2 separate regions of the Homo sapiens genome follow, and region 1 is linked to region 2. Evidence: fine-mapped expression QTL. A gene starts in region 2. The other region holds a variant in brackets. All regions are shown on one strand. Distances are between the middles of the regions. Region 1 overlaps UGDH (UDP-glucose 6-dehydrogenase). Region 2 holds the start of UGDH (UDP-glucose 6-dehydrogenase).

Region 1 (5,000 bases), 23 kb before region 2:
CCTCGGCCTCCCAAAGTGCTGGGATTACAGGCGTGAGCCACCGCACCCGGCCAGCATAATTCTTAAGAATTCAGACTTCAGAGTCTGAAAGGCCCCAGCTGGAATCCTGACTGGCACTTGCTGCATTACCTAAACTCTCTAGGTCTTTCTTCCTCACTTGTAAATTGTGTTACCACCACTTAACTCAAAGGGTCGTGGTAAGTATTAAATTAGGTAAAGTGCTTAGCATACAGCAAGCCAGCCTTCACTAAATGATAATCAATTTTGGTTTTGCCTATTACATTTTTCATTTATTCCATATATTCAAAATCATCATCTTATCATTAAAAACACTACTACTTCAACAGTCATGAATTTATCTCCCCTCCACAGCAGAGATAAACATACTACTCACTTTTCATGTCTTTTGAATTAAAAACTAATATTTAATTCTGACTCGTACCACAAAGAAAGGGCTTCTGCTTTATATTAACCAGTTGTCTCAGTGACTTACAAATTCTCCTTATTTAGTGATTCCATTCCTGTTTTTTTTTAATTTCTCACTAGGAAAGTTAACTTTTACAATAACTTAAAATCATTTAAAATATGTATTTCTCTACATATCTTTTCCCTTAGATGAGTAAAACAGGAATGAGAGAAAATGTGTCTATGCCTTGCAAATAACCTTTTAAAAATAACATTCCTGAGTTTAGTCATGACTGGGAAAAACAGTCATGTTGTTACTCACTAGGGAGGGGTGGAATAGAAGAGTCCCCAAGGTCTTGGATGGAAGAGTTCACAGACAAGGATGCCATTTGATTCTTTCCACAAGTAAATCTCTCATGAATGAGAAATGGGCACTGAATTCTAAATAAGGACCTTCAACAAGTTGGTGAGAGGTTAAGAGAACCAGATCAGATATTTTTGAATAGCAGATTAGGCCTTACTGATACCTCTCCAAGATAGCTGGTGCTGAGATGTGCATAGCAAGCTGTCAAACACTGCTGCTTTTCTGCTTGCTTGGGCACTACATTGACAACAACCCCCTGGCATATTTTTTTATTCTCCCTAACTTACTCCACCTCCCCATCCTCCTATCCCCATATACATACTGCTCTGAGGAAATGGAAAATAGCTCCTTATTAATACCTTTGGGACTCCTTGGAGAACTGAAATAGATGTAACCTACAAAAACACTGTTCTGGGTGGAGGCTTCTGTCAGCTTTCCAAATGTTCCATAATTGACAAACTGTTTTTTGTTTTTTGAGGCAGGGTCTTGCTCTGTCACCCAGGCTGGCATGCAATGGCATGATCTCAGCTCATTACAACCTCTGCCTGCTGGGCTCAAGCAATCCTCCCACGTCAGCCTCCCATGTGGCTGGGATTACAGGCACAGGCCACCAAGCCTGACTAATTTTTATTATTTTTTTTTCCCAAAACGGAGTCTTGCTCTGTCACCCAGGCTGGAGTGCAGTGGTGTGATCTTGGCTCACTGCAACCTCCGCCTCCCAGGTTTAAGCGATTCTCCTGCCTCAGCCTCCAAAGTAGCTGGGATTACAGGTGTGTGCCACCACACCCAGCTAATTTTTGTATTTTTAGTAGAGATGGGGTTTTACAGTATTGTCCAGGCTGGTCTCGAACTCCTGACCTTGTGATCCGCCCGCCTCAGCCTCCCAAAGTGCTGGGATTATAGGCGTGAGCCACCGCGCCCAGCAATTTTTGTATTTGTTAATAGACACGGGGTTTCACCATGTTGGCTAGGCTGGTCTCGAACTCCTGGCCTTAAGTGGTCTACCTCCACAGCCTCCCAAAGTGCTGGGATTACAGGTGTGAACCACTATGCCTGGCCAGTTGACAAACTTTGAATCAGAAGAGGGCCAGTACCATTGAAACTCCCATATGTTTCATTCAGACCCCTCACAGCACTGGCACAGTGCTGAGTACTCAGAAGGTATAGGATGAACACCTGCTGATTGACCAAGACCTCTTTCTTTCTCTACCTTTAGATCGCAAATTTAGGGAGGAAGTAGAGAAGTAGAGTAGTCAGAAAAATCCCATAGGGACTTCCTAAAGAACTGACATGTTGCCCCAGAGTTACGTTACTGCTAAAGAAAATAAGAAAATTCTAAAACCCACACAATGGGTTTAAAAAGCAAATGAGCACTTTCCTAATTGTTGAAATAAACTTCTGATATTGATTTGGTTCCCCAAAAGAACTTCCCTAGAAAGAAGGTATCATCTTAATTAGCCAAACATATTCTGACCTGCTGTGATGGTCTTTTGATGTCAACTTGACTAGATTATAGTCCCCAGTTGTTGAATCAAACACTAAAGACCAAACAAAAAGAAAAAAAACAATCCAGGATCATGATTACCTGGAAGCCAATGGTTTGTAGTTCATTGTGGAGCCCATCCAGGACACGCCGTCCATCGAAGATAAAGGCTGGCTTTAGCATTTTTTTATGAATGCGTTCATAATCCAATTCCTGTAAAGACAAACCACAGGAACAATTAAAACACATACGTGGGCCGGGCGGAGTGGCTCATGCCTGTAATCCCAGCACTTTGGGAGGCCAAGATGGGTGGATCACGAGGTCAGGAGATCGAGACCATCCTGGCCAACATGGTGAAACCCCGTCTCTACTAAAAATACAAAAAATTAGTTGGGCGTGGTGGCAGGAGCTTGTAGTCCCAGCTACTCAGGAAGCTGAGGCAGGAGAATGGCGTGAACCC[A/G]GGAGGCAGAGCTTGCAGTGAGCCGAGATTGCGCCACTGCACTCCAGCCAGGGCGACAGAGCGAGACTCCATCTCAAAAAAAAAAACAAAAAAACAAAAAAACACATACATGAACACATACTCAACCCCAGCTGATAGTGGAACACCTCTAGAATTTTCCTTAGTATCTTTTCTGTTACCTTACCTTAAACATGTCCCACTCAGTGCAAATAACAACAGCATGGGCACCATCACATGCTTCATATGGATCCTTGGAAATGGTCACGAGCCGGGACACTGTAACAATAGCAACAACAAAAAAACAGAAATAAGAAAGGAGTTATATGACATTACAGTAGTTCCCCCCTTATCTGCAGGGATACATTCCAAGACCCCCAGTAGATGTCTGAAACTGTGGAGAGTACTGAACCCTATATATACTTACACACATACCTGTTTTTTGAATCTGATTGCCAAAAGTTACTAAGTGACTAAGTAGCATATGGAATGTGGATATGCTGGACAAAGGAATGATAAATGTCCCAGGCAGGATGAAGCAGCACACAATTTAAAACTTATGAATTGTTTATTTCTGGAATTTTCCTTCTAGTACTTTCAGACTGCAAGTGACCGCAGATAACTGAACCCGTGGAAAGCAAAACCACACATAAGGGGATAGTACTATAGGTATTCTAACACTAGGACTGCAGGAAGAGTTGGGAATAATCTGATTGCAGTATCAATGGGAGTGATGGTGGGAGGCCCCAAACCCTGCTTTGGAAGCATCTCTTTGGAATTTTGGGGATTTGTGGAGTATGTTGGAAAAATCAATGGACCAATCCACAGCTGATCACTTCAAATCAATGTTGATGACATTATGCCTAAGACTTTAATTTCAGAGAAATGAGGTTGAAAAGAGGGCCTACCAATGATATACATGATAAAACTGAACAACCTAAGGTTTCCAAAAGATAAAAAGTTTTCAGGTCTGGACTCAAAATGATTCATGAGACTCAAAGCCTTACCTTGGTCATCCTCTGAAACACCTGGATGAGAAAGATCCACAACTATTTGTTCCCTAGGTACTTTTGGATCATATATATGTAGATGTGCACCTTCATCCATCAAATATTTGCTAATATATATACTAGAAGATTCTCTATAGGAAAAAAAAAATCAGTATTGGTAAGCTTTATGTGGCATTATATTCTAATACCAGGGAGTTTAAGATACAGGTAAAATTATATTTCTGAAGCTGGTAGAGTGGTGAAGATATGGATATTTATTTTTATTCTTTATATTTTATATATATACATGTATTTTATGTACACCTACCCCAATCAAAAAATTAAGATGAGGAGTTAACACAATCTCAAAAGGGTTGAAATATTTTTAAAAACTGATACCTTGTATCACCAGTGTCCTTTTTGAATGCAAATCCCAAAATAGCTATCTTCTTATCAGTTACTGTATTAAACAGACTATCTATGATCCGGGAAGCAAACCTCCTCCTCTGGTAGTCATTCATGTCTATGACCTGAAATTACATGTACAATTGTGCAATGATTAGTTAAAAGAGGCACAGCCTATGACACACATTACTCAGAATTTTATGGTGAGTGCTATTGTACAAATACAATGCTTACATATTAACAAGAGGCAAAAATTAACCAAACTCTAGTGCCTATGGATTAAAAAAAAAAAAAAATCACTCATCCCCTTCCTTAAAGCCATCCTAGGCCAGCAGTGGTAGCTCATACCTGTAATCCCAGCACTTTGGGAGGCCGAGGTGGGCGATTGCTTGAGCTCAGGAGTTCAAGACCAGCCTGGGCACCACGGCGAGACCCTGTCTCTACAAAAAATACAAAAATTAGCCAGGCAAGGTGGCATGTGCCTGTAGTCCCAGCTACTTGGGAGGCTGAGGTGGGATGGCTTGAGCACAGGAGGCAGAGGTGGCAGTGAGCCGAGATCATGCCACTGCACTCCAGCCTGGGCGACAGAGCCAGACCCTGCCGTAAATTTAAAAAAAAAAAAAAAGCCATTCTAAAAATTTCTAATTTCATTTGGCTTGATTTTCTATGCATAAGGCTAGGATGGATGCCAAAAGTGGAGCGCACAACCAAGTTTTAATTCTAAGCGCATTTGAGGTTCAGCTATGAGACCAACCTAAATAAGGCACATAGGAAACCATACTATCCTTAGTCCGTGTCTCCAAATTCTGTGGAAACAAGCTACAAGCAATGAAACCCCAAAGTATTCCTTCATTTGCTTGTGCCCCACTATTCACAAAAATTCAGTTTCAGTGGAAA
Region 2 (5,504 bases):
CTGGGCTCACCGCAGCCTCCGCCTCCCAGGTTCAAGTGAGTCTCCCACCTAGCCTCCCAAGTACCAAGTACCTGGGACTACAGGTGTCCGCCACCATGTCCAGCTAATGTTTGTATTTTTTCTAGAGACAGGTTTTCACCATGTGGGCCAGGCTGGTCTCAAGCTCCTGACCTCAGTTGATCCACCTGCCTCAGCCTCCCAAAGTGTTGGGATTACAGGTGTGAGCCATCGCATCTGGCCAAGTTCTTTTTTTGAGTTACCTAAAGAACTTCAGCATGTTTCCCCAGAGTTACTTCTTATCTGCCTTGATTGTGAGACCACATTTCAACTTGCTTTACATACATCAGCTGGGATAGACTACTGATGGCAGGTGAACTTGTATCACAGAACTGGATGTGTTTTACACAAGCTTTATTTTGGGTATTCTCGCCTTGCTATTTCCCATGAAATACGGCTTACCGATGACAATGGGAGAATCAATGAAAAGGCTGATGTACAATCTGTGCAAGTCCAAATAAATGCTCACTTGGAAGTTTCAATAAAATCTTCAATAAGCTTTAACATGGAGTTTGACATAGTGTTAGTGACACACTTTGCATGACACAGATGTCTGCCAACTCCATTTTCTATTTCTTTTTTCTTTTTGAGACGGAGTCTCACTGTCACCGAGGCTGGAGTGCAGTGGCACCATGTCGGCTCACTGCAACCTCCGTCTCCTGGGTTCAAGCAATTCTCCTGCCTCAGCCTCCCGAGTAGCTGGGATTACAGGTGCCCACCACCACGCCCAGCTAGTTTTTATATATTTAGTAGAGACGGGGTTTCACCATATTGGTCAGGCTGGTCTCGAACTCCTGACCTCAGGTGATCCATCCACCTTGGCCTCCCAAAGTGCTGGGATTACAGGCGTGAGCCACTGCGCCCAGCCCCATTTTCTTTTCTTTTTCTTTTTTTTTTTTGAGACGTAGTCTCGCTCAGTTGCCCAGGTTGGAGTGCAGTGGCGCAATCTCGGCTCACTGAAAGCTCTGCCTCCCAGGTTCATGCCATTCTCCTGCCTCAGCCTCCCGAGTAGCTGGGACTACAGGCGCCCGCCACTACGCCCGGCTAATTTTTTTTTGTATTTTTAGTAGAGACGGGATTTCACCATGTTAGCCAGGATGGTCTCGATCTCCTGACCTCGTGATCCGCCCGTCTCGGCCTCCCAAAGTGCTGGGATTACAGGCGTGAGCCACCACGCCCGGCCCCCATTTTCTATTTCTACTTTTATGTACCCTCTGGCCCTCTATTCTGCTGTCAGAGACATAGGAGTGTTTCCTTATTAAATGGGTTATTTTGAAATGAGTTTTTACCTCTGTATTTTGGGAGAGTCACAACAAACCAAACCGTTCCAAAACTACTCTTCATGTAAAATTTCATAAATTCAAATAAACATTCCAACCCAGAAGGGGTCACTAACAAATAACAAATGCCCTACTACAATCTAAACGGAATATAATCCTTCTAGCCCCAGCTCTCTACAGCATATTTTGCATAGGTACCCAGGAGCTAACGATGGGCATTATAGTTGGATACATCAGCTTCACACATTTTAATCATTTCCAGAAATTAAACAGTAAAAGATGCCTGACCAGAGAAAAATATTTAATCAGTAAGAAAGCCGGTATTAATTTTATGTCTAAGGGTTATCATGTAAAGCTGTGGAAGTAAACAAGAAGGAAGATGGATTATGCTTATCCAGTTATAGATTTTGTTAGAAAAAGGAGTACAGCAACGGGAGAAGAAATGAGATCTTTTCAATCAGGGTTGTCTACCCCTTACCTTAAACTGGATCCTGGCCACTAATAAGCACATCTCAGAGCAGACAGTCAGCTCTTTCATTTCCAGAACCCCCCTGAAGAAAGACTACTGTTCTCCATTTCTTAAGGGATTTGAAGAAACTCAAAGGCTCACTGTGTCTTTGAGGTCTGTCGATAGACAGCTACTGCTCTGTATGCCCATGAATAGATCCCTACCAGCGAACCCCTCTTTTCTCTATACTAGAATTCCTAACCCTACTAAGTTATCTTCCTATATATTTATAGGACGTATAATTTTTCAAGATCTCACACAAACATGGTCTCCCGAGGCACCCAGGAAAGGCCTTCCCCGACATCAAACAGAGCAATTCTGTGGTGTAGGGGGCCAACAATGGATTCCAGGACATCCCGGACAGATATCACGGCAGTCTTAGTATTTTGCTCTCAAGAGGGCTTTCTGGCTTCGTTTCTCTTTGGTTTCTTAAGAGGGGCGGCATGAGAAAAGCAGGAGCCCCTCAGGTGAGCAGACTCTTAAACACAAACAAAAGACTACGACTCTGCGGCCAAAATGAGGTCCCCAACGAGAGAACCGCTTCCTGTGGTGGGCGTTCGGCTTTGGAGGCGGCAGGGAAATCTCATCCAAGTCAGGAAAGTGGGTAAAGGCAGAAAGAGAAGGGGCTGGAAGACTCACGAGTCTTGAATAAGAAGCCCAGACGACCACATCCCCAGGACAGCAGTTCCAAAATGCGGTTCCCGCCCTAAGCCCCAAAGAGACGAAGGTCGTGAGACGGGAAGCCCGGGACCCAGCGCAGCGAGCGACCGGGAGCAGCGCGCACACCCCAGCCCCGCTCCCTCCACATCCCGCCCAGACCTGGGAGCATCCCGCCCGGGCGGCGGGGCCAGCCTGGGAGCGGCGCTTACCCACTTCCCAGCAGCAAGCGCAGGGACCGCTCCTATCCCGATCGTTCGGACAGCACCTTCCTACGGGCCGCGCCGCCGCAGCTTCTCCACCCGCGCCCCGCTCGATCTGAGCTCCCTCTCGGCGCACGCCCCTCCCTCAGGCTGCCACGCGTTACACTCTGAGTCCCGGGCCTGAGCCCGTATTTAAAGGCTTTTGCCTGCGAAGGCGGAGGCTTCATTCCCCCGCAGCCAGGCCCTCCTGGATTCTGCCCTCAGCTGCTTCCTAGCTCCCCCTCCCGCTACACAAGGCCCAGGGCCAGGTCCCTATTTCCTTCACGGCTCAGGGGCGGGGAGACTGGGGCTGGTCCTGGCTGGGAGGGCCTGCCCCGCCCCTGGCCTAGCTGGGCAAATCCGCTTTGGCCAGCTCAGCGGCTCCGCCCCTACCGCGAGCGGCGCTGGGCGGGGCTGCGTGCGTGGCGTGTCCGCTGGACCAGGGGACGGGGGCGCGCCGCAGGTGTAGGAGCTTTGCGCGCCTACCTGGCGGTCGTGGGTCGAGGAGGGGTCAAGAATTGTTGTCTAGCAGCCCTCTCCCCGCTGCCCTGTCCTGGCCGAGGCAAAGGCCGCGTGCGCTCCGCGTCTGCCAGGCTTTAGGGCTGCGCGGACACTGGGTGGGTGGTGGGCCGAGGCGACCGGAAGGTCCTGGCCGCCTTTCCGGTCTCCTCAGCACCCTGGAGCGCCGCCCTCGGGTTTCGGTCTCCTGGATCTGCGGGTCGGTCTCGGCGGGCGGATTACTCCTCGCCCACAACCTCGAGGCCCCGGGGTCAACCGCGCCCTCCGGGCCGGCAACCCAGGGTTTAGTCAGATTCCTCCTGACCCACCGCTTCTGGGAAAGAGGCGCCTCCCGTCAGGAGGATGCTGAGTTCCTCATGACTGGACCAGTGAGTGTCCACTCCCTGGTCCCTGGCGAGAGAGGCGGGACCCCCACGCCCTCCTGGCGCTCTTTGCAGAGATGTTCCTCAGGCCCAATCCGGGATTTGGGATGTCTGTGCGTGCTGTGGAGCAGAGAGTTTGCAACATGTAAGTGCCGTGCGTGAGGAAGAGTAAAATTAACCTATGGAGCCTGCTCATTTTTAATGTGGAGGGCAGTTCCGTTCCTTTCTTTCGCCGCTTCGAGGTCATTTTAACACTCAAATCTAACATATAAGAAAAAAAGCCAGGCATAATCATGGCCTTTTATTTCCCTCATTAAGGATTACATCAGGTGACATAAGCCATTTTAACATACATCATGAAGAAAGTGATTAGTAATTTATAAAGGCACATTAAAATACCATATAAATTACGGTTTTCTTGATAGGATCATGATGGTGACTTTAAGAAAGTGGTTGAATGTGGATGAAACAGTTTGCTGTGGATTGTAGCACGTGTGGCAGGATATGTAGGCTTGTTGGTTGGTTGTTTTGAGACGGAGTCTCCCTCTTGTCGCCGAGGCTGGAGTGCAGTGGTGCGATCTCGGCTCACCTCAACCTCCTCCTTCCAGATTCAAACGATTCTCCTGCCTCAGCCTCCCGAGTAGCTGGGATTACAGGCGCCCACAACCATGCCCGGCTAATTTTTATATTTTTAATAGAGACCGGGTTTTGCTATGTTGACCAGGCTGGTCTCAAACTCCTGACCTCAGGTGATCCGCCCGTCTCGGCCTCCCAAAGTGCTGGGATTACAGGTGTGAGCCACTGTGCCTGGCCAGTATATGTAGGCTTTCTGCATTCTATGCAGTTCAGTTCATTCATCCAACAAATATTTAATGCCTGTTGTGTGTCAGACGTTATCCTAAAGACTGAAGATGCAAAAGGGATTAAGACTCAATTCCTTTGGCCAGGCACGGTGGTTTACGCCTGTAATCCCAGCACTTTGGGAGGCCATAGCGGGCGGATCACCTGAGGTCAGGAGTTCCAGACCAGCCTGGCCAACATGGTGAAACCCCGGCTCCACTAAAAATACAAAAAGTTAGCCGGGTGAGGCGGTGGGCACCTGTAATCCCAGCTGCTCAGGAGGCTCCCTGTTGCAGTGAGCCGAGATCACACCACTGCCCTGCAGCCTGGGGAACAGAACGAGACACTGTCTCAGAAAAATAACCAAACAAAAAAGACTCATTTCCTTCTTGCAAAGCTCACAGGTTGGGTAGAAGAGATATGTAAACAAGTAATTGCACTAGATATGACAAGTACATCTTTTTGAACATACATAGATTTAAGTTATCTAATACAGTTTGCTTTGTAATAAAAACCACTTATCTTAGTCCCTTCATTTTGAATTCAACATTTTTCTATTTAGTATTCACCTCACATTCTTTTTTAGTATTTTGGTAGAATCAGACTCTTCAAAACGGTTAATAGGATTTCAGAAATTAAGTCAATTTTCAGTGCCAGCTAGAATGGACCTTTGGATTTAGGACAGAGGTTCTCCAAATGTGAGCTGGGGACTGTAGACAATCTCCGAGGTTCTTTCTGGGATCCATGAGGTCAAAAAGTTTTCATGTGTTACTTGCTTTTTTCACTCTTGTTCTCTCAGAAGTGTACAATGAAGTTTTGTGGAGACTATAATGTGCTATCAAAGCAAATAGAATTAAGCTGTTTTTTAAGTCAGATATTAGAGATTTACAAAAATGTAAAACAATGCCAATCTTATCTTTTGTTTTTAAAATATAGTAATTTTTCATTAAAATATGATATTTATGTTAACATGTAATGGGCTTATTGTCAATTTTAAGGAATTAATCTTTTATATATAATTTATCAGTTTTCATTTCTA

What was found.
Region 1: its variant is fine-mapped to the expression of UGDH in whole blood (TOPMed, PIP above 0.99).

The regions. Positions count from the first base shown.
Region 1 is chr4:39,501,521-39,506,520 of GRCh38, forward strand. It overlaps UGDH (UDP-glucose 6-dehydrogenase), which reads right to left. Exons shown (of 12, transcript NM_003359.4): 8 at 4,098-4,228; 9 at 3,717-3,850; 10 at 2,897-2,988; 11 at 2,355-2,465. Among named protein-coding and RNA genes, the nearest start is that of UGDH, 23 kb to the right of the region's middle. The variant A/G (reference allele first, on the strand shown) is at 2,713.
Region 2 is chr4:39,524,569-39,530,072 of GRCh38, forward strand. It overlaps UGDH (UDP-glucose 6-dehydrogenase), which reads right to left and starts at 2,871. Exons shown (of 12, transcript NM_003359.4): 1 at 2,715-2,871. It overlaps UGDH-AS1 (UGDH antisense RNA 1), which reads left to right and starts at 3,271. Exons shown (of 5, transcript NR_047679.1): 1 at 3,271-3,770. RefSeq lists silencers at 2,586-2,765, 3,016-3,315 and an enhancer at 3,696-3,755.